Linked DNA regions of Homo sapiens. The protein of the gene in region 1 purifies or fractionates together with the protein of each later gene. This does not show direct contact. Each region holds a gene or a part of one and is shown in the gene's direction. Other genes may lie near its edges.

Region 1 (3,500 bases):
ATTTTTGGTCTACATACATACAGTAGTTACACCTCACACTTGGTTAGGAAGGTGCCATTTTTACATAATTTTCCTTCAGAATAATTAATTCCTGATACTTTGTACTTGATTGTATGAACCAGTTTCAACATCATTCTTTTTATTTTAACTTTTATTATGGGAACTTTCAAACATATACAAAATAAACAGAATAGTGTCCTGCTTTAACAGTTATTAACTCCTGACCAATCTTGTTTCATCTCTAATGGTATCCACTTGCACCCTTACCACCCATAATTATTTTCAAGCAAATCCTAAATATCATGTCATTTCATTCATTATTTTTTGGGATACTAATTACACAGTGGGTGCCCAGTAAATGTTTGGTAAAGACAAAGCTAAATGGGAGAATAAATGTGGTAGGGTAGCTCGGAGCAGTGGGTAAGATCAGGACTTTGAGTCAGACTCCCAGTGGGTCTGCTGCTTATCTGGGTGATGTGCAGAAGCGATTGCACTCATCTGTAAAACATACGGGCACAACCTCAGGGTGCTCAGGAGGTGTACAGTAGTTATACTTCACACTTCGGTAGGTCTCTAAAGGTACTGACTCTTTTAAAGTTGAAAAAGTAATAATTGCTTAATATCATCAAATAACTAGTCAATATTCAAATTTCCAGCTGCCCCATGAATTTTAGGTTTCCTTAATAGTTTGAAAGTAGAGCAAGAGAAGGCCATACGTTGTTGATTGGATGATACGTCTTTTAAGTTTCTCTTAATCCATAGATCCCCCTCCTATTTCTTTGTTTTCTTGGTAGTTTATTTGTTGAAGCAATCGAGTTGTTCCTTAGCATTTCCATAGTTGGTATTTGATTGATTGCATCTCTGCAGTGTAATTGAATGTGTTTCTCTGTAATCTCTGTAAGTTAGTAATTGGATCTAGACGAGGCTTCGTCAGATTTAGGGTGCATTCCTGCATCAAGATGCCTTCCTAAGTGGGCTGTGCACTTCTTATCTAGAGGTACCCTGAGGCTCTCTGCTCGTCCGTGTTGCAGATGAGTGCAATCGCTTGCTGCACATCACCCAGATAAATAGCAGACCCACTGGGAGTCTGAAGTCAAAGTCCCGATCTTAACCACTGCTCCCAGCTGCCCTACCGCATTTTTTCTCCCATTTAGCTTTGTCTTTAACAAACATTTTTTGGGCACCCACTGTGTAATCAGTAGAGGATTGAGAAATAAATCAGACACATTTTCTGCCCTTACAGAGTAGAAGTGTAAGTAGACTCGGAATGCAATCTAAAGCGAATACTGGGAGGGTGGCAAAAATGGGGGCATGCCCAGCATGGTTTGAAGGGAAAGGCTGGAGGAGGAAACATGTAAGAGAAGCAAGTGCTTGAACTAGATTTTTGAAGGAGGGTGAATGTTGACCAGCAGGTCAAAAAGGGGAGGGAAGTCATTTCAAGCAGATGGAACAGCTTAGGCAGAGGCCTGAAGGTGTGCAGTAGCTGGGTGTGTCCGCTGATCCCAGGTGGTTTGATGTTGCCTAAGATTGGGCCAGAGGACTGCCATCTCCTGTGCTGTGCTAGGGAACTGAATCTTATTCTCCAGGCAGTCAGTCACTGTTGAAGGAGTTCAAATGGGAGAATGGTGTGATCACTGCACACTTTCAACAAATCTCTCTTTTTTCTTTCCATATTTTGAAATAATTATAGATTCACAGGAAGTTGCACAAATGGCACAGAGAGGTCCCAGTACCCTTCCCCCAGCTTTCTCCCACGGTTACATATTTACACAACTGTAGTAAAATGTCTAAACCAGGACATTGGGCATCGGAGCAAGGTGTATAGAGTTCATTGTCATTTTTTATCGTGTGAAAATTCCTATAACCACTACCACAATCAAGATTCAAAACTATGTCATCATCCCAGATATCTCCTTGTCCCACCCCCTTACAGCCACAGCAGCCCCTTTTCCCCACCATTCATAACTGCTGGCAAGTACTAATCTAGTCTGCATCTCTATACTTTTGTCTTTTCAGGAATGTTATATGCATGGAGTTATACAGGATGTGACTTTTTGAGATTGGCTTTTTTCGTTGACTATCCTGCCCCTGAGATCCACCCAAGTTGTGGTATGTTTCAGCAGTTGCTGAGTGGTATTCCATGGTATGGGTATACAGCAGTTAGTTTAACCATTTACCCATTGAAGGACAGGTTTGGGTTGTTTCTAGTTTGGCACTATTAAAAATAAAGCTGCTGTGAACATTTGTGTACATATTCTCACGTGGAGTGATTTCTCTTTCTAAAGTGGCATGTGTGCAGTGGTTCGGAAGTCACAGAAATGGTGGCTGGGAGAATGCTTCTGCTGTCGCTGGTCCAAGGAGCCACGAGAAGCCCTTACCCAGGGCCCTGGGAGTGGGGGATTGAGAGGGAAATAGGCAGGCCTGGGTGCCTGGAAGTGGGGCTGGTGACGGAGATCCTTGCAGGGTCCTATGGATCCAACAGTGGGTGAAGTGATAACCAAATGCTAGTTGTTCTGTATTGTGGTATATACTGTGGCTTAAGAACTACAGAGGATGGCCCTGAGAGCTGCAAGGTTCTTGATTATCAAAGAAAGATTACGTTGTTATACCAAGCTATTCTTCATAAGAATTACAGTAGGAGGCCAGGCGCGGTGGCTCACGCCTGTAATCCCAGCACTTTGGGAGGCTGAGGCGGGCGGATCATAAGGTCAGGAGATCGAGACCATCCTGGCTAACACAGTGAAACCCCATCTCTACTAAAAATACAAAAATTAGCTGGGTGTGCTGGCGGGCGCCTGTAGTCCCAGCTACTTGGGAGGCTGAGGCAGGAGAATGGCGTGAACCTGGGAGGCGGAGCTTGCAGTGAGCCGAGATCATGCCACTGCACTCCAGCCTGGGCGACAGAGCGAGACTCCGTCTCAAAAAAAAAAAAAAAGAAAAGAAAGAATAAAGAATTACAGTAGGAAAATAGAACTTTTTAAATTTTTACTATTTTTTTTTTTTTGAGACGGAGTCTCGCTCTGTCGCCCAGGCTGGAGTGCAATGGTGTGATCTTGGCTCACTGCAAGCTCCGCCTCCCAGGTTCACGCCATTCTCCTGCCTCAGCCTCCCTAGTAGCTGGGACTACAGGCGCCCGCCACCACACCCGGCTAATTTTTTGTATTTTTTTAGTAGAGACGGAGTTTCACCATGTTAGCCAGGATGGTCTCCGTCTCCTGACCTCGTGATCCACACGCCACAGCCTCCCAAAGTGCTGGGATTACAGGTGTGAGCCACCGCACCCGGCCAGATTTTTACTATTATTATTATTATTATTGTTTAATATAGAGTTGAAGCCTCACCATGTTGCCCAGGCTGGTCTGGAACTCTTGGGCTTAAGTGATCCTCCCACCTTCGGCCTCCCACAGTGCTGGGATTACAAGTGTGAGCCATCTTGCCCAGCTGGAAAACAGAACAATTTAATGAAAAAAATGTCGGCAGCAAGCATTGAGACAGAGGGT
Region 2 (2,934 bases), on another chromosome or scaffold:
CTAATAATTGTATTAATACATAGCAGATGGGCTTATTCGGTGTGAGCATGACAGAAAGCTAGGAGAATTAACGATATGAGGCAGAGCTATGGTCACAGAGATGTACATACACATACACACACATCCTTGCGTTCAAGCACATAAAAGTGTGGTGGAAACATAACTAAGAATGTAATTATCATGACTGTAAAAATAAAATGTTAATTTTTGAGATAATTATCCACTTACAATGATAAGTTAATGGCATAATATGGCTGCAGTCTGCCATAGTGTTTAAGAGCACAGGCTTTGAATTCCAGTCCCCCTGGGTTTCAAATTCAGCTGTATTGCCTAGGAGCTGTCTGACTTTGACCAACTTACATGGCCTTTTGAAGCGTCACGTTTTCCTTTTATTAAAATGGAGATTAAAATAATAACTACTTTCAGGGGGTTGTTATAAGGACTAAATAAGAATATGAATGTAATTTTTTAAAAAAGAATGAAAACCCCTCAATCCTAGACTATATGAATAATATATTTGCGTATAATTCAAATTGGCAGTTAGTGAGGAAAATGTTGGTCAGTGATGATCACTGAATTTTAACAGGGACATTGAGTAGAGCTAGTGACTATTAAAATCGAGGTGTACAGGAGGACTAAGCAGGCTGAAAGATCTGAAGGAACTATAGAGGTGAGATTAAGGGGAATGAATCACTGTCTCCAAAGATGTAAAGAACTGTCATATAGAATAAAGTTTTCCATTGCATCTAAAACATAAATAGGACTAATGACAGTAAGTTATAAAAAGAAAACACTTTTTTTTTTTTGCTTTGAGTAGGATATGAATTAAAGGTCAAAGATTCAGAATGGTGTATTGTGTCATGATGTCATCTGTGGTCTGGGGAGGGGCATGCATGTGCCTTTGCAACTAGATTGTGAGCTTTTCGGGGTCAGGGCTTGATCATTAACTTTTTATTTCATAAGTAATTGCCAACAGGAATTAAGGAAGATTTGGTGAATGAACAGATAAATGAATGATTTATACATACATAATACATCTGAGACTATTTTATTACATGAATATTGTATCAATGTAGACATGGCCAGTAAAGAGAATATTGGAAGGAAAAAAGCCTCTAAACTGTGTTCAAAAATGTTTAGTAAAACGCATTTTGGATGGTATAGTTAATGCTGGATTGTATACAACTTGATTAATAAAAAGGATATTTTAAGAGTTCCAGAAAAGTAACAAGCAGAACAGAATTCTCAACTACAAATGACGGACCTATTTTCTCACTAATACCGTGGTCCCAACATTTAGCTATAGGTGCTAACATTTAATAGTTCATTATTTCTGTTGTGTGCTTCCAAAAGCCACAAAATGTATGTATACACACACACACACATTTATTTATACATACACGTTTCTCCTCTAATTCTCTCCTTATATCCTTAACCATTTTCTCTTGGAAGTAGTTGCCATTGCCTTGTTGTGCTTACTCAGGTCACTTGGGTTGGGTACTGTGGCGTAGTCAGACTAATGATTGTATGCTTCATTCAGCAGAACAATTTTTTCATTTTTACTTATTCCATTCCCTTCAGACACTTCTAGTTTCCCCTCTGATAGTACTTCCCTCCCCATTATGCAGTGTGGTTCACTGTTGGGGCCCATTTGGGCACAAACGAGACCTTTTGTTGAGTTACTGTACTCCTGCCTTTCTAATTACAGAATTCCAAACAGAATGAGTGAATTAATGACATGAATTTATTTCCTGCAGTGTCTAGGGCAGTGTAATGCTGCAGCAAGCTTGCAATAGCACATAAGCTCTCCCTTCACTCCTTGTCCTCCATTTTTGCCGGGTGACTTCACAGCAGCAAGAATGGAAGGTGCACTTTACTCACCAGTGAGTAAATCATGTGAATGGATATTTTAAAGCACATGCCCTATACGCAGTTCACAGAACTATACTTTTAAAAGCTCTCTGAGAACACATGCTTGGAATATGAAAATGTACTGAGTACTGTATTTCTTCAGGTATCCTAGGTAAGGCAAGAGTGTATAGGCATAGGCAACATTTAAATGTGTGTTGTTGCATTTCATTTCTCCAAATAATTGTTTGATATTTGACTCTACAGCCCTTCAGGGCAGGCAAATACTTGTAACATTAGCTCCATAGAGATATGGTTCTCAATTACCAAAAGACTGTAGAAGTCACTTTTCTTTGCCTGACACTGGGAAGGATTCTGATTGAAGGAAGCAGTCTTTGTTCCTCTGGTCTCATGTGACAGTCTGTATCTTCAGGTCCATACAGGTTGATGCACACCAAAAAGTGGATTCAAAGCTGCCTATTCAAGACTTGGTGATAGGGAAAGATGAGGAGTTAATTTTCATTTTCGTTTATCAGCTGCCTGTTTGATTAAGATTTTTGGTAGGAAGAGCCATCTTTCAGACATAATGCCTAGGGTAGGTTAAGGGCAAAAATTAACTCTTTGAAATATAAATGCTTCCTATTAGGTTGGCAGATTTCACTAAGCTCTTTTTGGGAAGAAAATGCTAAAATTCAAAAAGAGAAACATGGAAGTTATTACAAGAATGAGAAGTGTGAGGGAATGACTTTAATAAATAATGAACTATTAATGACGTATACTGAAAATATAATGTCCAGAAAAGGAGAGTGAGAACTCCATCACATGATACTGTGGGTAACTAGGATGATTTTCAGACTAGATAACGATGAGTATTACTTTTTCTTCATAAATTACACTCACAGACTCCCCAGTCACAAGCAGAGTACTAGGCCAGAGGGATTGTGGTTCTAACCCCTCAGAGAACATTTCTTGTTAAATAGACTTCTTTCCTGTCTTCCTCTAGAAAGTCTATGAAGGCTGATATAATTCCAATACATTGGTTATTTTTGAAAGCAAAAGCAAAGTGAAAGCAATTAAAGTGTTTTC
Region 3 (3,500 bases), on another chromosome or scaffold:
AATATTCACTTTACGTTATTTTGTTACAATAATAAGTTTTATATTTCTTATTATCAAGCAAGAGTTGCCACCTGGACAGAGTTTACATTGATACTCAATATTTTTGATATGTTAAAGTGTTATTATACTTGTACCATTCAATTGGAGATTGTCATAAATTAAATATGGTATTTTTTACTCAGATTTGATGAGACTGCAACTAGAGAATAAATATTACATTAAAATTGCTGCTATTTTAAAACATAGAATGTAACTGTTTGTATTGTAAAAGTTGTGTGTCCTCAGTGAAAAATACTGCCTTCAGCTTCCAAAGCAGGCACCTGAATGCCTTTTTCTTTTCTCTCTCTCTTCTTTCTTTAAATACATGCCTTCACTAGATTGCTGTGACCTACTAAACCTCATTTTATTTGCTTGGAACATTTTTGGCTTCTCTGTCCACACCATAGAAAAGGACAAAGGCCTTCCAGCTCTCCTTTTCTCTTATTTGTTCCCTTCTAAATACTTGACTCTCTGGGGGTGTGAAAAGATTCAGCTCATAATTTATACTACTATTAATTTTGTGGTCCTTCTAAGCCAATTTAAAATTATACTTTTGTGTATATATTTTCAAAATCTTTGCTACTGACTACCTTAGCTTTAAAGTTGCTAATTTGGAGATGACTGATAGAATCCCTGAAACTTGGTGGAGGGGAGTGGAAAGGAGCAGAATGTGTTTGTGTATATGTATGTGAAACATGGATCTTCTATATATAAATATTCTTTAGAAAAAGCGTTCAGTCTTTTTACAATTCTAAGTAAAACGTATAGGTCAACAGAAATTAAAGGAATATTTCTTAAAATTCATTTATTTTTCTTTTTTGAAAGCAGACAGAAGCAAGGCTAGTATAGTATGAATGGTCAGGTAGTTTAAATGCGTTGTCCCACGTGGAACAGGAGATATTAACTGTTTTTAAAGCTTTACATTATTTTTTTACAAGAATTTGTTTTCCTGTAATTTTCTTCACAGTTAAAATATCCTAATTTATATTTTAACAAAAGAGATGTAAGATACATCAAATATAGATGATTCAAGGTAATGTTTTTTAGACCTGAAACTATTGATTCAATTTATCATCAGTGTTTATTTCTATTGTATCTAGTTATCTATCCAAATAATTGTATTGGCTTAGCGGAGACTGTATGTTAAGTGTATTAGTTTTAGATTGTGAAATTGTGCAGTTTAGGTAAACATCAAATCCCTTTATTTTTGTACAGCAGATTTCCAGCATTAGAACCATGTAGAACAAATATACTAGATGTTAAAGATTACACAATAAAGGAACTTGGCAAACCAAATCTGAGATCCTTGCTTTTTGTTCAGATTTAAGACTGTTTTTTTTTTTAAGGCAAAAAATAATAGATGGTAAAAATTTGGCCTTTATTCTAAAAGGACAGTTTGAACCATTTAAAGAAATATTATGGGTAGCCATGTCTTTAAAAATTTTGAGGCCTGATCAAAGGACGAATCTTTATACACATTGTTATTTTCAAAGGTATTTACAAATTGAGAAGCAGAATGATGATTTCTTGCCCCACTAATGACAAATAAAATACCATTTCTTACCATAAACATTGAAAAACAAACTGAACAAAACTTGACCATATAACTTACAAATACTTTTGACTTGAATTTGCATGTGGAGTATGTGTGCTAAAACTGCAAGTGAAGACTTTTTATACTTAGAGGAATAGTTGTAGAGTTCTTTGTAAGGTTCTTTGTTCATAATTTTTTATATTTTGTGATGTGAATAATAGTATGCATCTGCATGACAACACTGCAGATCATATTGCTGTGCCCTTTTAATAACTGGATATTTTAAAATTATTTTAAATGCAGTTGTATGGTTTATCAAATGGTTCTCTTTTTAAACATTTTATAAGGAAATTTAGACCTTTTCTATTCAAGGCTTTGTTGAAGTAATCAGTGAAGGAAATGGTATTATATATCTATACAGTATATTGTTTAAAGGTACTTTAGAGAAGAATTAAACTGAGACAGTGATGTTCAAGTACATAATCTGTGCATGCTATTTAAGTATCATTTTGCAAATATAAATATATACATAAAAATAATTGAGTTAGTATATAATCTATAAATTCCCCTATAATTAAGGGTTGTTATTTTCAAATCTTGAAATTGTTTATTTTTTAAAATTCCACGCAGTGTATTATATAGGGCAAAGTTCAGGAAACATGTTTCCAGTCTAAAGAGAGGAGTGATGTAAGAAGAAACTAGTTGACATCTTAAGAAAGGGTATTCTCACTTGTGCACACATATCCTTGATTATATAATATGCTGATTTAACATGAAATATTTTTTCACATTTTAATTTTGATTTGAAGTTAATCTTATATGTCATTTTGTGCATTTTTTGTCATAAATCTTCAAAGGTCAACCTGATTTTTTTTTTTTTTAAATGATACCAGATTAGAAAAATCTCAGATGTGGTAAATGCCATCTTTAAAAAGCTAGGTTATCTTTGTTTCGGTTTTCTTTTCAATTAAATTTGGATAACACTTACAAAAAAAGTACTTCTGATTCCCAGAAATCATAAAGAAGCAGGGGGAAGGCGTCCCCGACTTAGTCCATGTGATGCGCACATTAGCGAGTGAGAACATCCCCAGCCTCCCACCAGGGGGTGAATTGGCAAGCAAGTAAGTTACATTCTGTACACTCTTATGCTTTATGTCAGTGTATGAAAATGTTAGGTATTCATTGATAAAATGTTTGTTTGCCTAATTTCTGAACTGATGCAGTTATCTGTGTTTTAACCTGTGATTTCAATTTTTTTTTAGTATTAGAATATCTAGAGTTTGTTTAGACATAGGTATCAGTATCATTGTAACTAATTGCAGTGAGGGTTGTCTTTATTGGAAGCTTGGTTGGCATTGATTTCCTCATAGAGCATAAACGAGATAATATACTGAAAGAACTTTTTAAACTAAATTACATAGCACTACATAAAAATTTACAAAATTCTAAGTGTCGTTGTTAGTAGTAGTATAATTTGATTTGGTCAATCCCTGAGTAACTTAACACCCTGAAAATTCCCCTTCCTCATATGGACCATGTTTCTATGCCTGATTTTCCCAGTATTTTTGGTTGTTGATTGCTGGTTAGTTGGTTTTAGGTGTCAGGGAAGAAGATAGAATATATTTCTTGTCTTTTCCCTTTCCACTTTAGTTCATAGAATTGGACTACTTTGTGTTAAATATTAAGCTTACACCTTTACATAATAAAGTGGAAAATTCAAGCAATTCCAAGGGTTAAAACATTTTTACCTCAAATATCCATATAATTGACTTACAAACATAAAACTTGCAAATACCTTTAGCTTGAATTTGGATATAGAGTAAATGTGCTAAAACTACAAGTGAAGACTTCTTGTACTTACAGTGAAGATATATTATTGACTAATTTTCTCGATTCTCTACTGTGTTTTGCAAGTGTGACCATGTTC
Region 4 (3,500 bases), on another chromosome or scaffold:
GGTTTTCTAGCACTTCTCACAAAGCACCACAAACCAGGCAGCTTAAAGCAACAGAAGCTTTATTCACCCACAGGCTTGGAGGCCAGTACTTTGAAATGACGATGTCGGCAGGGTCATGCTGTCTCAAAAGGCTCCAGGGGAGAATGTTCCATGACTTTCTCTTGGTTTCTGGTGTTGCCAGCAGTTCTTAGCATTCTTTGGCTTGTGGAAGCATCCCTCCAATCTCTGCCTCCATTGCCATACGGCATGCCCTTCACACAGGTGAAGACATTTGTGTCTTCACATCTTCCCTCTGTGTATGTCTGTTTCTGTGTCTCTCCTCTTATTCCTTTAAGGACACCAGTCATATCGGATTAGGGCTCACCTAACTCCAATGTAACTTCATCTTAACTAATTATATATTAGTTAAGAAATAGGACATACCCTGTTTCCACGTAAGGTCACATTCACAGGTAATGGGGATTAGGACTTAACATATCTTTTTGGGGGACACAATTCAACCCATTACACTTACTAAATATTAAACTGAACAATGCAAAACTGCTGCAATTCGACTGTTTTTGTTTTATAAAAGTTTTAACTTTGTAGTTTAACTGAAATCCTAATGGAAACAATATGTGATAAATAAAACCAACTGATGTTGATTAGTGCTGTCAACTTTTCTGACATATGCTGGAGAAGAGATGTGACCACTGGGCTCCCGACAATGGCCACTGTGGCTGAGCAGGCCCAAGACTGCAGAGTCTAGGCAGAGCTGGACACACAGAGGACCTCACATGCCTTCAGACATTTGCCTGGAAGTTTCTTCACAACTGATCTTACTTTTGAATTTACAGAAAGTTCCTTGTTTCTTCTGAGATCAATTACTTTGTTTAAATAGAATTCTTATAGTGTTGGCAGAATGCAGTTGAGAAGACGTTAAAGATGCTTTAGAAACTAACTGCTCCCTTGTCCTTGCTTCCAGGCCCGCAATGGATGCCCTGCAACTAGCAAATTCGGCTTTTGCCGTTGATCTGTTCAAACAACTATGTGAAAAGGAGCCACTGGGCAATGTCCTCTTCTCTCCAATCTGTCTCTCCACCTCTCTGTCACTTGCTCAAGTGGGTGCTAAAGGTGACACTGCAAATGAAATTGGACAGGTAAGCCCCAAAACCTTGTTTCTACTTTAAGTGGGAATACAGTTATTAGAACCCATAGGCAGTGCCTACGGAAAAAAGGAATGTAGACTTTGTGGCCAGAATTGGTCAAGATTCAGAACTGTGCCATTCCAGGACTCTCTTAATCTTTTTTTTTTTTTTTTTTTTTTGTGAGACAGGGTCCCACTCTGTCACCCATGCTGGAGTGCAGTGGTGCGATGTTGGCTCACTGCAGCCTCCAGGTTCAAGCGATTGTTGTGCCTCAGCCTGCCGAGTAGCTGGGATGACAGGCGCGTGCCACAACGCCAGGCAAATTTTTGTATTTTTAGTAGAGACAGGGTTTCACCATGTGGCCAGGCTGGTCTCGAACTCCTGACTTCAGGTGATCCGCCTGCCTCGGCCTCCCAAAATGCTGGGATTACAGGCATCTTAATTTATTTTTAAATGTGAAAGCTCGCTTGTAGGTAATGCAACTCACATCTGGGACAGGCACCAGGCTGTGATGGAGAACCTGGAGATCTGCTGGGTAATCACAGCTTTTTCATTCTGACTTATAATATTTTCAATTTACAATGGTTTTATTGAGATGTAACCTCATCATAAATCAAGCAGCATCTGTATCGTTTTAGGGTTTCTTTCTGGCTATGGTTGATTATCTAGCTTTGTAAAGTTCTTAGACCTTCAAATGAGACAATTTTCCTGATTGTTCCGTTTTAAGTCCTCATGTACTTTTACATAATAGGTGAATGTTCTTCTAATTCTATTTCATTATTACTCTTATGCTAATCATTCTAGGTTCAATAGAATTTCTTTTCTATTAGCTCATAAGCATTTAAAAAGGCAACACCTTCTTGTATTCATATGTGTCCAGAAAGTATGGCCCATAAGAGTTATTTAGGTAAGGATGAAGAATTTACACTTGGGACTTGAAGCAGCTTCACTCCTGTGAAGAGGAGATGTATCTTGACATCAAGCCACATCTCTGAACTGCGCAACTCCACTATCCCTACCCAATCTCCCATTCCTCATTTCTCATCTACCATTAGAGAAAGGCCAGCGAAAGAGAACTTCCGGGTAGTGGGTCTGTTCCTCAGTAATTCCTCAAGCTCTTCTCAGTATATGCAACTGGTTCCCCAGCAGTAGTTACCTGGGCTCTTAAATTTTCTGGTCTCCTTCATCCATCTTTAGGCATGAGAGTTATGCACTGTCTGGGACCAGCATTTGACCCTGCAATGCTGAGGCTATGTAATTCATTGGGACAATGTGCCGGTTTGGCAGCGTTCGTTATCTGGGTTGTGGAATCACAGCATGGCCATTATGAGTTATGGAGCGAGGAGGGTGTCATCTTATGCTGACATTACATGTTGTGGTGTTGCAAGGCAGAAAAGATGCTGGACTATTGGTTGGAACAATAAAAAAAAAAAAGGAAAAAAATACAATGATTTAAGCCCTCCAAATGATAGTATCCTGGTTTTAAATGGCTTACAATATTATTACAAGAATAATTAACAGTTTGAATCCATATAATATTTTACGTGTTTTACATATAAGTAATCCTCATTAACAACTCAGGAAAGCAGGTATTTTCAGCCCATTTTACGGAGAGGAAAGGAGGCTCTGAAGAGTTGGAGAAGATTCTCTGAAGAGTTGGAGAAGAGGTGGTGAAGGCTGGGATTCACAGGCAGGGCCATCTGACTCTAGCCAGCCCAGGGCAGCCCACCATTTATTGTAGCTGCCCATCAGAAATGACACATCTATTTACCTGGCATTTGCTAAAGCACCCAGAGGGACTAGACAGACTCTGGCTAGAGGCACTTGTCCTGAAATCTGATTCCTGCCTGATGATGGTGTCTCTTGTATCAATCTCTCTCTCTGGTCTTTGAATTGGATAGAAATTATAACCCAGCTTCATCGTTCTCCAAGTTTGGAAATCCTTCTGTGTGAGTATTAAGGGCATCACTTTGAAGAAAGGACAAATGTTCTCGATGGTTGATTTGGAAGAGTACCTTTATGGTAGTGTTTCTCAGTGGGGACAATTTGTCCTCCCCTTCCCACTCTGGGATAATCTGGCAATGTCTGGAGACATTCTGGGTTCTCACAAATAGGAGGAGGATGCCACTGGCATCTAGTAGGTCAGCGATGCTGCTAAGCATCCTGCAGTGCCCAGGACAGCCCCACAAAGACTCATCCAGCCTGAATGTCAATAGTGCTGAGGTTGAGGAGCCTTACTTTACGGGAACTAGGCAGGAGGAGTCTGTATGCCCAAGGACGTTGGTCATTATCACGTGTCCACTTCAGTACAGCACTACTCAGAGGCAATGCTTTTTGGGTAACGGATTTTTCTCTTAACAGGTTCTTCATTTT
Region 5 (3,500 bases), on another chromosome or scaffold:
ACCTGCAGGCAGATCCCAGGAAAGTCCCAAGCCTGGAAGGGCCTGTCTCCCTCGAGGCCAGAGTGGGACGGTTTGGGGGGCTGGGGCCCTCACCCAGCACTGGTGGGTGGGACAGCATGGGTGTGCAGGTGGGCGTGGATGAGTATGGGCATGGGAGGGGCCGGGCCTGTGCTAGGATTTGCCAGGAGGGCACTCCCAGGGCCTGGTCATGCCACCCTCAGAACTGCCTTTCTGTGCTGACATCTGCCCTGCAAGGTTGAGGCTGTGTCCCCTTTTCTCCAGAAGTGCAGCTGCCAAGGAGTCCCAGGCCCCGTGGTATACAGTGGGCTCATGGCGACACCCAGGCAGGCCCACGGGCTCTGCCCTCAGGCTCCCTCCCACCCTGTGGTGGGCACAGCCCCTGCTCTGGGCTGGCTCTGCGAAGAACCAGGGAGAGTGGGAAAGAATATATTGGGGGGGGCAGGGGTGCTGCCCCTCACCCAGGAGAAGGGATGTTCCAGGATCCCGCGGCACAGGCAACACAGCTCCTTGGTCCATTTGCAGGGACAGTAGAGGCCGGAATGTGAGGACCAAGCCTCTGTCCTCCCCACAGCAGGGCAGGTTTGCGGGAAGCGGGAGAGAAACAGTGGCAGGACAGGCTGTGCTGGGGTCCCAGGACTGCTGTGAAGCCCACCTCCCCCTGCCGCTCCTCTTCCCCCACTCCAGCTGCGCTGCTCACGATGTTGGGGGGCAAGCGGCAAGGGATGAGAGAGGGGCCTGGCCCTTTAAGCAGCGGCCCGCAGTCGGCCTTGGACCCTTGGCCGGGCGACTGCACTGCAAGTGGGTGGGGTGGCGGCCCCCGCCCTGGCGGGGAGTCCAGGGGTCATGGAGGTGGCGGGCAGAAGTGCGTCTGTGACTGTGGCCATAAGCGCTTGCAGGGTCTCCCAGGTGGCATGGGGCAGGCACATGTCCTGGTACACACGCCTTTTTTCAAGTCTGGGATTTCACTGTGAGTAACAGGTGAACTGCAGGCGCTGCCCCAGAAACCCCCGAGTCAGGGAGCAGGGATACTGGGAAGGCGCCTTTGGAGATGCCTGGGGGTAGGGGTGCCTCCCCAGGGCCCAAAGAGTGCTGGGACCTACAAAGGGTCCACTGAACCCCAACACCCCTCACTTATCACTCACCCCCAGAGCCTGGGTGGTTCTGAAATCCCTGGAGCCTCGGTCCCTGCTAGGCCTGGCATCCACAGTGGGGTGTGTAGGGACATCCACACTACCTGCTCCGCCTGGGGAGGTCCTGGGAAGCTTCCTGGGGAATTGCTGACATAGCTGTCGGTTCTCTGCACCTGTCCAGAGACTTTCCTGCCTTTACCTCCTCTGGGAGAGGTGGGAGGGTACTGATGGAATCCCCAGCACCTCCTCCTTTGGCCAGGCCCTGGAGAAAGCAGAGAGTAAGGCACAAAATCCCTGGGAGAGCCACAGGGAGGAGGAGAGGCAGCAGGTGGCAGAAGAGTCTGCAGAGAAGTGGTGCAGCCCTTCCGCCTCCCCGGGGCTGTCCTGCAGCGGGAACATCCAGGGCTACCCCAGCTCAGAACAGTGAGTGGAAGCCAGCTACAGTGCCCATCCCAGCCTCTGCTCAGGGGAACCTGCAAGCTGGGGCGTCGTTGGTGACAAGTCACCTACCTGCTTTCCCCTGTCCAGTCAGCAGGTTCCCACAGAAGAGACTGTTCCTCCAAGGCTGCTGCCTCAACCCACCCAGCCTGGAGCTTCCCCTATCTCCACAGTCCCCCAGCGTCACGCCCTTTTTAGGGACACGGGGAGCTGGCACAGCAGGTGTTCTGGTTGGGGGTTTGCACACACTCCCCTGTCCTCAGGAGTTATCCAGGGTGGCTCTACTCCACCCAGCAGGGGAGAATGGAGAGAGGAGGAGCCCTAGGCACTGGGGGCACGCGGGGCAGGCAGTGGGCACCTGCTACACATGTGGCACCAGCCTCTTCTGCAAACCAGGACAAAAAAGAGCCCTGGGGTTCCCAGGCCCTGAGCTCCCGCCGTCACTCCCCTGCCCCGTCCAATGGGATAGGGCAGGCCTCAGCCCAGCTGCCTCAGGCTCTGCACAAGCAGGAGCCGGCTTGCCATGGGGGCTTATGTTCTGGAAGGTGTCCTCGGGGTGGTGCTGGGCCATGCTGGCTTCACCCTCCCAAGAGCTGGCAGCCACCAGGTGGGTGCTGCCCAGTTTCTGGTCCACATCGGTGGTCGCCCCAGCCAGGTCAGGGACGGCCAGGTCCATTCTCACCATGTGTCTTCGTGCTCATTATCTTCTTGGAACCACATGATGCTGTGTGGCAGGCAGGAGGAGGAAGCTGAGACCAGAGCCATGGTGTGCACTACCCATGGTCACTGAGTCAGACATCCAGGGATTCACGTTCGGGTCCTTCCAGCTGGTGCAGGGCAGGGGACTTCCTCCCACCAGCCTGTGGCCTCGGACTTGGACGTGTGTGGAAGGCAGCAGCACACGCTGGTCACGTGTGCAGCGGGTGCCCACTGCCTGCTCTGCGTGCCCCCAGTGCCCCGGGCTTCTCCACTCTCCGTCCTCCCCTGCTGGGTGGAGTACAGCCATAACCAGACAGCAAATGCCCCGAGGGCTGTGCCAGGGTGATGTCATGCCTGGGGACGGGGAGGGCCTCTCGGAAGCCCTGGCCTCCTGGTCCTGGCACCCAAGCCCAGGCCTGGGGCTCCCAGCCAGCTGGAGGCAGGGAGGCATTGCATCAGTGCAGGGGAGGAGGAAGGCCCAGCCTGGCCCCAGGCCATGGGTATGGGAGATGGCCGGGCTCGTGAGGGCCTCTCCTCTGGGCTGTGTGACACACACCCTCAGCAGGAGACCCCTGTGGCCTCTGAGCCCACCCCTGCCTGGGCCCAGCGCGTGCCGTGATGGCCAGCCACCTCAACGCCACCTTTACGGGCATCCTAGCGGCGTCCTCAGCTGGGTCAGCCCCTAATTAGCATGAGGAGGAATGTGGGCGTAGGTGCAGGCTGTAAATGTGTGGCAGTACCCCCTCCCCCCACCGCGGGCAGAGCAGGTGCTCCGCCAGAGGCTTGCCGGCTGGGCTCAGGCTCGGGTCTGGGCTGGGTGTGACTGATCCTCAGCAGTAGATGGGGTGCCCTAGGCGGACAGGGCACCCTAGGCGGACAGGGAGCCCTAGGTGTTCTCTCAACCCACTTGACGGCCCTCCTCCTACAGGGGGCTTCGCCACCTTCTCCTCCTGCTTCCCCGGCCTCTGCGAGGGCAAGCCTGCTGCCCTGCTACCCATGAGCCTCTCCCAGCCCTGCCTGCCTGTGCCCAGCGTGGGCCTGACCCGCATCCTGCCTCACCTCTACCTGGGCTCGCAGAAGGACGTCCTAAACAAGGTGTGTGTGCAGTGGAGTTCGGGGGGTGGTCAATGGGAAAGGGGCAGGAGCTCCAGAAGCAGCTTGGCAGCGGAGCGGGGGATGAGGGAGGAAAGGAGCTGAAGGCAGTGGATGAGC
Region 6 (4,078 bases), on another chromosome or scaffold:
GGCAAAAATCTTCCAGGGACGGAGCTAGGGGGCAAGGGTCTGCCCTGGAGGAGAGCCCAGAGCCAGGGTCCAGGGTCCAGGGAGAAGCAGAGGCTGTCCGATGAGCTCGTGAGAGAAGCCCAGAGGTTGTCATAGATGTTCAGCTCCCACCCCCAGCCCTCCTAGGCTTATCCCCACCCCCATCTACCAGGGGCTTGTCCCAGAGGCTAGAGGGCCTCAGAGCCCATTTGCTGGCTGTGGTGCTAGAAGGAGACCTTCTGGGCACAAGCCCTGCTTGGTCCAGGGCCCCCCCACCAGGGGCCCCCCACTACCCCACCCCCACCAGGGGCCCCCCACCCTCGCTCCCTCTCCATCCAGGCCTCTGCTCTTCCAGACCCCTGGTTCTTCCCTGCACACCCGCTCCTGCCCCAGCCTGACATGCGCTGACAGGAGTGCAGGCCCTCTGAGTCAACCCCCTGGGGCGGCCCCGCCCCCCTGCACCCTGACTCATGTGCTGGGAACGGCCTCCCACCCCAGGGCCTGGGGTGCAGGAGCAGTGGTGCCAGGGTCCCAGAAGCCAGAGAGGGTTTTGGAGGCCTCTGTAGGGGGTGAGGGGGTCCTGGGGGTGAGTTCCAGGGTCTGCAGGCTTCGGGGGAGGGCCGGTCCATCCACATGCTTCCTGGTGCGGAGGGGGCTCGCTGGATTCCAAGGACCAGGGCCAGGGCCTCCATGGAGTCCCGTTGGACCCTAAAGCTCTGTCCCTCCAGCCTTTGTCCTGATCCCTGGCACTGACCCCTGACTCCCGACAGTGTCTCCTGCCAACCCTTCCTAGGCCTCATCCCCACCTCACCAGGAAGGCTGGGCTACCATGGAGGCTGGCTGATTCTTGGAGCTACCTAGGGCCCTAGACCCCCAGGGACTGGGGCACCCTCCCCTTCATGCTGGGGGTGGCAGGACATAGGCCCCCCGCAGGCCCCCTGCCCTTCCCTGACACTCAGGACACAGAGGGCCCCTCTGTCCCAGCCCCACGACAAAGGGCCCGGTCTGGCCTTTACAGGCTGAGAACAAGAAGGACCCAGGTCCCCGTGGCCCTGTTGTGGGATGGGAGAAAAGGAGGCGGGAGGCCAGGCTGGGACCTGGGGCCATGCAGGGCCTGTTCTTCCGCCCAAATTCCACCTTAAGCAGGCGGCGGCCCCTCCCTCCCACCTGGCCAGGTGTCCCCGCCCCCAGCTGCGCTCAGGGCTGGGCAGGCGTCTGTCTTCAGGCGGCTCTGGGTGAGGCTGGCTGGGCGGGGACTTCAGGGAGAGGGCCTCGAGGGACAGGACGTGAAGATAGTTGGGTTTGGAGGCGGCCGCCAGGCCCAGGCCCGGTGGACCTGCCGCCATGCAGGACGGTAACTTCCTGCTGTCGGCCCTGCAGCCTGAGGCCGGCGTGTGCTCCCTGGCGCTGCCCTCTGACCTGCAGCTGGACCGCCGGGGCGCCGAGGGGCCGGAGGCCGAGCGGCTGCGGGCAGCCCGCGTCCAGGAGCAGGTCCGCGCCCGCCTCTTGCAGCTGGGACAGCAGCCGCGGCACAACGGGGCCGCTGAGCCCGAGCCTGAGGCCGAGACTGCCAGAGGTAGGCGGTGGGGACAGCGGCGGGGATGGCGGTGGCGGGGAGAGGTGGCTGCGGGCGGACGTGATAGTGTGAGGGCAGAGGCCGCAGTGAGGCCGGCTCCTGACTCACCAGGCCTCACACTGAGTCACACACCCCGCCCCAGGGGCGTGGGGAGAAGCCATGGGTGGGGCTGCCCTGTCCAAGCAGGGACCCCGGGGTCCTCCAAAGACTGAGCCTGGCCAGGCCCCACCTGTGCCTGGAGTCCTGGAGCCATCCCTGTGGGGGATGACAGGGAAGGTTGGCACATGGCAGGCGGGCCAGGCCACTCGGTCGGCAAACCCGGAACACGCACGCGCCTGGCCCCGGTAGCACAGACTCACATAGGGTCTCAGGGACACCCAGACACCCACGCTCCTCCCATACCTCACGGGAATGAGCAGAACGGGAAAGCGGGGAGAGGTGTGGGGGTGCTGGAAGTCCTGGAGGAAAGCCAGGCCTGTCTGGACCAGGGGCTCCCTGAGGAATTAGAGGGGAGGGCCCGGCTGGAGTGACCTAGATTTCTCTGTGGGAACAGCAGGTGGAGGAGCACCCCTCGGTGCCAGCCAGACCCACCTGTGGCGGAATCCTGGCCCCACTCACGCGAGTGTGTGTGCATGCGTGTGAGTGTGAGTGACAGGAGCACAGACGCTGTGAGTTGAAGGCAGTGGTTCTAGGAACGCCATTTCCTCCTTCCCAGGCTACAGCAACAGGGATTAAGGTTAGACAGTAAGATGGACCTCCCAGAATGCCAGGGACCCAGATGCCAGTTCATCATGGTCCACTTGGTGTTTAGAGGGGCCTTCCCCAGGACTGGCCTCCAGCCACTGGCCAGGGGGAAGTGAAGGTCGCCCAGCGGAGGGGCCGGCCCGGCGGCCTGGACTGTGGGGTCCTCCCTCCAGGGGCCTCAGCCTTGCTGGTGACCAAGTCGGGTGCCCAGGGGTCATGGGGTGGAGGACGGTGAGGGAAGGGTTAATTACCACCCTGGCTGCCCTGCCAATTAGAGGGAGGTGGATTATAATTGGGGGGTGGGGGTGAGGTCCCCAGGCTGGGGCGTGCCCCCACTCCGGGCTGGGCCTCACGAGCGTCAGAGGGTTAATAGCCCCGGCCCAGAAGCCCCATTAACCAGGGTGAACCTGGGGCCTCTGCCATGGGGGTGTCCCCCACAGAGCATCCAGCTCTGGGCAGAGTTGTGGGAGGGCCACGGCCCCTTTCCCTGCACCCCACCCTGAGCCCCTCAGCCAGGTCGCTCTGGTGGGCCTTCTCATGCCCCCACCATCAGCCCATCCTCTCTGCACCCATCCACGAGTCCATCCCTCTGCCCACTCACCATCCAACCATGGGACCCTGTCGTCGACGGCTGTCCCACCCCTCCATCCACCACTCTGTCCATCCTTCCAGCAGTCACAGCAGCCCTCCCATCCTCCTCCTGCCTGTCCCTCCATCCACCCTCCGCCCTCCACCCTCTGCCCACCCACCTGTCTGTCCACTCACTGTGGAGTCGGGCTGACGCAGCTGCCCTTGGCGTGTGTGTGGCTGGACGGGGTGGGTGTGGCCCCTGCCTCAGGCTCTGCCGGGTGGGACAGGGCACTGCAACAGGGCATACTGGTCCAGGGAGACAGTGTCACTCTCCTGTGACCGGGCACAGATGAGGTTTGGGCACAGGAGGGGCTCAAAAGGAGTCAGTGTGGGCCGGGGCAGGCCAGGCTGGCTTCCTGGAGGAGGCTGGGCACTGTACCATGGCAAGGATTGGAGAACTGATGTCAGAGGCCCTGGCACATTCCTCCTGGCGACCAGGAGGTCAGTGGGTGAGCGTATCTGCCCTCTCGGGTAGAGGAGGCACAGCTGGGGGGTGGGCTGTGGAAGATGGACCACCAGGGCTGACATGTGAGGAGACCAAGCCATGGCAGGAATGGGGAGGCACTGGCCCTGGTGCCCCCCTGGCCTCCCTGCCCTGGATTGGAGGCTGCTCCTAGGGTTGCCAATAGCGATGGAGTGGTGGAGAGGAGGCAGGAGGCCAGTGCTTTGCTGTGTGGCAGAGCTGGGCTACCACCGTCCCTCTCCACAGGCACATCCAGGGGGCAGTACCACACCCTGCAGGCTGGCTTCAGCTCTCGCTCTCAGGGCCTGAGTGGGGACAAGACCTCGGTGAGCGATGGGCCCAGCCCGAGGGGGACGATCTGAGCTCTGCAGTCTGGAGAGTGGGAGGCTCTGCAGCGGGCCCGGACACAGGTGAGCCCAGGCACGCCCTCACCGCCCCCTCTCGACCCACAGGGCTTCCGGCCCATCGCCAAGCCGGCCTACAGCCCAGCCTCCTGGTCCTCCCGCTCCGCCGTGGATCTGAGCTGCAGTCGGAGGCTGAGTTCAGCCCACAACGGGGGCAGCGCCTTTGGGGCCGCTGGGTACGGGGGTGCCCAGCCCACCCCTCCCATGCCCACCAGGCCCGTGTCCTTCCATGAGCGCGGTGGG
Region 7 (3,500 bases), on another chromosome or scaffold:
AAATATAAATCCCTAATTGACATAGTTTTATTTTGCTTGTTTTTAACCTCAGTGCAAACTAAAAGTAGATACTCTTGTGAATCCTTCCTTCTGGCCGGCATCGTGTGTGTGTGTGTGTATGTGTATGTATGTGTGTGTGTATGTATGTATATACACACGCACATATATAATTTTTTAAATTTCTGCAGCATGCTATTTTAAAAGATTTATCCATATCGTTGCCTATGCCTGTAGTTTTTGTGTTTTAATTTTTTTAGAGACAAGGTCTCACTATATTGCCCAGGCTGGTCTTGAACTCCTGGGCTCAAGGGATCCTCCTGCCTGGGCCTCCCAAAGTGCTGGGATTACAGGTGTGAGCCACCACACCCAGCCCAGTTAGTACATTTTTGTCTTATGAACATACCACAAATTACCTTTCCACTGTTGATGGACATCTGGGTTGTTTCTGGTCTGGGGCAATTATGAACAGCCCTGAGTCAGGTGTGCATACCTTCAGCTTTACTAGTTGATACCTGGTTTCCAAAGTGGTTGTACCAATTTACATTCCTTCAGTGGTGTCAGCCTTGAGTTTGTAAGTCACTGTATTTGCTGTTTAACCACAATTATGCTTGAATATTTTCTGAATGAATGAATAAAGGTCCCTGGGTAGTCCGATCCCTGGCCTGTCATGTGCTAGCGTATTTTTATTTAGTTATATGGTTTGGACTAACCACCCAAATACCAGAAATGGTTTTCCCACTGTGTTTGGTTGACAAATATCTAATGGAATCCTTTCATCAATCTTTTTTTTTTTTTTTTGGAACAGATGAGTAGTTACAGGAAATTTTAAATATGCAAAATGAAGTACTAAAAATAAGTGGCTAGTACCTAGATGTTTTTTAAGGCTCTTGAATGAATCCTGCCTCTGGTGAATGCTTCCATTGTGCCCAGCCCTAAATGTGTAGGACAGTGTAGTGTGCAGGAACCCAGGCCTATCCTTGTTAAAGTACCCTCTGAGGATGAGACTCCTTAAGAGGCACTGTGCACAGACCCTAACTCATACTTCTTGGCAATTCCAAAGTAACCACAGACTCTGTGCTACAGGAATCAATGACTCTTTTAAACTTTTTTTTTTTTTTTTTGAGACAGAGTCTCACTCTGTCGCCCAGGCTGGAGTGCAGTGGCGCGATCTCGGCTCACTGCAAGCTCCGCCTCCCAGGTTCATGCCATTCTCCTGCCTCAGCCTCCCTAGTAGCTGGGACCACAGGTGCCCGTCACCATGCCCGGCTAATTTTTTGTATTTTTAGTAGAGACGGGGTTTCACCATGTTAGTCAGAATGGTCTTAATCTCCTGACCTCGTGATCCGCCCGCCTCGGCCTCCCAAAATGCTGGGATTACAGGCGTGAGCCACCGCACCCAGCCTTTAAATCTTTTAAATGTATTTTTCTCCAAATTTTCCTTTGCCTGAGAAAGTAGAAGTAGCTTAGAGCAGAGTTTTTGTCGTTTTTGTTCATTTTCTTTGTAAGAGATGGAGTCTAGCAGTGTGGCTCAGGCTGGCCTTGAACTGCTGGGCTCAAGGGATCCTCCCACCTCAGCCTCCTAAAAGCTGGGACTGCAGCATGTGCCACATCCAGCTTGAATTCCTGCTTTGTGAACAGACAGTTACCAGGCTCACTTTGATTGCCCGTGTTTAGTTTTGCCAGCTGGATTTGAAGTGTGTGTGTGAGAGAGAGTGAGAGAATGTGAGAAAGAGAAGGAGCAGGAGGGAGGGTGTGGGGAGAGGTGGGCAGTTCACCTGAGGGCAGCCGTTAAATTCAGGTGTTCATTGAGTACTTACCATGTGCCTAGTATTATGTGCTGTGTTTCTGCCCTTAGAGCAGAATGTTACGCAATTCTGTAGGTTTACAAAATACCTCAGGGGAATCCTTTTTAGCTGGAGGGATGATGGAAGAACACTAGCACAAAGACTGAGATTTGTAGATCCTTTTTATTTCTTCTCTAAAGCATCTTGGAAAATAGCTAAATCACTCTATTTTCAGTCTTTATTTACATAAGTCACAAAGACTTTTTTGCTCATTATAGTAAAGATTTTTTTTCAGATTCTCTAAAATAATGATAATTTTAGAAACCACATGCGGATAAATTAGAAGTTTTCAGGAAAAGACACCCAAAGGAGGAGGAGTAAGAAGTCGTTAGTATGAGAACCTGTTGATCTGAGTGATGGGGGAGGAGCCCTGTCGTGTTCTTTGTCACCCCTTCGGCCTTCCAGCGGGCAGCTTTCACAAAGGAGCTCCATTTTCCACCTGTTGCAGGGCAGGGGCAGCCTCAGCCTGGGCGAGGGAGGAGGCCTAGGGCTGAGATCACAGCCATGCCCTTTCATGTGCAGCCCACCCAGCTCACCTGGGCACGTCCCATTCTGTTCTTGCACCAACCTAGAGCAACCAGAGGTCCGGTTGGGTCAGCTTTTCACACCCCATGCCATGTTGAAACCTCAGTGGACGAGAAGGTTCTTTTGAAGTTCATATGCAACTGCTGGGTTTACTTCTGTCTTTGTCCCAGAACAGTTTCAGCATCAATGACCTAGGGCAAGTTTTTTTGTTTGTTTGTTTGTTTGTTTTGACTCCTATGTCTTTGAGTGTGTGGGTACATATGAGAAAACTCCCTAACTAGAGCATGCTGCTTCTGTTGACTAGTAAACATTATGTGGCAGAGAGCGCCTTCAAAGCACCAGCCTTCCCTGCCTGGGAAAGTGACCAGTAGGTGAACTTGCTTTAAGTTTTGTTTTTTTTGTTTTTTTGTTTTTTTTTTGAGACGGAGTCTTGCTCCATCACCAGGCTGGAGTGCAGTGGCGCGATCTCGGCTCACTGCAACCTCCGCTTCCCAGGTTCAAGCAATTCTCCTGCCTCAGCCTCCCGAGTAGCTGGGATTACAGGCGCATGCCACCACGCCCAGCTAATTTTTCTATTTTTAGTAGAGACAGGGTTTCACCATGTTGGTCAGGCTGGTCTCGATCTCATGACCTCGTGATCCACCTGCCTCGGACCCCCAAAGTGCTGGGATTACAGGCATGAGCCACCGCGCCCAGCCTGCTTTAAGTTTTAAGGAAGCACTTGTAAAAATAAAATCTGGAAGTACTGTCAACATACAAATTACATACAAATTTGGAGATTTATAATGAAGAATTTTGCCAATTTAGCTAAAATCTAAATCTTAGATTTAACTAAATCTTTTAAATCTTTGTGTTTCATTATAAAACACAAAACATTTATAATGAAGACACACTTCATGTCATCATTATAAATCTTTGGTGTTATCCTGGCTCCTATATAAAGAGCACTGGCAGGCTCAGGCCAGAAGTGGAGAGGGGGCTTGGACCGACAACTATGTGTTGTTAATTTTCTTCTATTAAAAATATTTTTTACTTTTAGAAATTGAAATCATATAGAAAATTATGCTGGGCACAGTGGCTCACGCCTATAATCCCAGCACTTTGGGAGGCTGAGGCAGGTGGATCACTTGA

The links.
Region 2: the proteins of MAPK9 (region 1) and PRKD1 purify together in Homo sapiens (affinity purification with western blotting, with the first as the bait; one study listed by BioGRID). This does not show direct contact.
Region 3: the proteins of MAPK9 (region 1) and PPM1A fractionate together in Homo sapiens (co-fractionation; one large-scale study listed by BioGRID). This does not show direct contact.
Region 4: the proteins of MAPK9 (region 1) and SERPINB5 purify together in Homo sapiens (affinity purification with mass spectrometry; 3 studies listed by BioGRID and IntAct, with this or other methods). This does not show direct contact.
Region 5: the proteins of MAPK9 (region 1) and DUSP8 purify together in Homo sapiens (affinity purification with mass spectrometry; 4 studies listed by BioGRID and IntAct, with this or other methods). This does not show direct contact.
Region 6: the proteins of MAPK9 (region 1) and PKP3 purify together in Homo sapiens (affinity purification with mass spectrometry; 3 studies listed by BioGRID and IntAct, with this or other methods). This does not show direct contact.
Region 7: the proteins of MAPK9 (region 1) and DUSP14 purify together in Homo sapiens (affinity purification with mass spectrometry; 3 studies listed by BioGRID and IntAct, with this or other methods). This does not show direct contact.

The regions. Positions count from the first base shown.
Region 1 is NC_000005.10:180,285,584-180,289,083, reverse strand, and holds part of MAPK9 (mitogen-activated protein kinase 9), read left to right. Parts: intron 1-2,016; exon of another isoform or gene 2,017-2,109; intron 2,110-3,500. UniProt on the Homo sapiens protein: Serine/threonine-protein kinase involved in various processes such as cell proliferation, differentiation, migration, transformation and programmed cell death.
Region 2 is NC_000014.9:29,578,914-29,581,847, reverse strand, and holds part of PRKD1 (serine/threonine-protein kinase D1), read left to right. Parts: intron 1-1,757; exon of another isoform or gene 1,758-1,883; intron 1,884-2,934.
Region 3 is NC_000014.9:60,287,221-60,290,720, forward strand, and holds part of PPM1A (protein phosphatase 1A), read left to right. Parts: exon of another isoform or gene 1-1,335; intron 1,336-2,585; coding exon 2,586-2,694; intron 2,695-3,500. UniProt on the Homo sapiens protein: Enzyme with a broad specificity. Negatively regulates TGF-beta signaling through dephosphorylating SMAD2 and SMAD3, resulting in their dissociation from SMAD4, nuclear export of the SMADs and termination of the TGF-beta-mediated signaling.
Region 4 is NC_000018.10:63,483,458-63,486,957, forward strand, and holds part of SERPINB5 (serpin B5), read left to right. Parts: intron 1-964; 5' UTR 965-971; coding exon 972-1,139; intron 1,140-3,488; coding exon 3,489-3,500. UniProt on the Homo sapiens protein: Tumor suppressor. It blocks the growth, invasion, and metastatic properties of mammary tumors.
Region 5 is NC_000011.10:1,558,772-1,562,271, reverse strand, and holds part of DUSP8 (dual specificity protein phosphatase 8), read left to right. Parts: intron 1-3,216; coding exon 3,217-3,383; intron 3,384-3,500. UniProt on the Homo sapiens protein: Has phosphatase activity with synthetic phosphatase substrates and negatively regulates mitogen-activated protein kinase activity, presumably by catalysing their dephosphorylation.
Region 6 is NC_000011.10:392,931-397,008, forward strand, and holds the start of PKP3 (plakophilin-3), read left to right. Parts: upstream 1-1,278; 5' UTR 1,279-1,362; coding exon 1,363-1,594; intron 1,595-3,677; coding exon 3,678-3,757; intron 3,758-3,883; coding exon 3,884-4,078. UniProt on the Homo sapiens protein: A component of desmosome cell-cell junctions which are required for positive regulation of cellular adhesion. Required for the localization of DSG2, DSP and PKP2 to mature desmosome junctions.
Region 7 is NC_000017.11:37,492,891-37,496,390, forward strand, and holds part of DUSP14 (dual specificity protein phosphatase 14), read left to right. Parts: intron 1-3,500. UniProt on the Homo sapiens protein: Involved in the inactivation of MAP kinases. Dephosphorylates ERK, JNK and p38 MAP-kinases. Plays a negative role in TCR signaling by dephosphorylating MAP3K7 adapter TAB1 leading to its inactivation.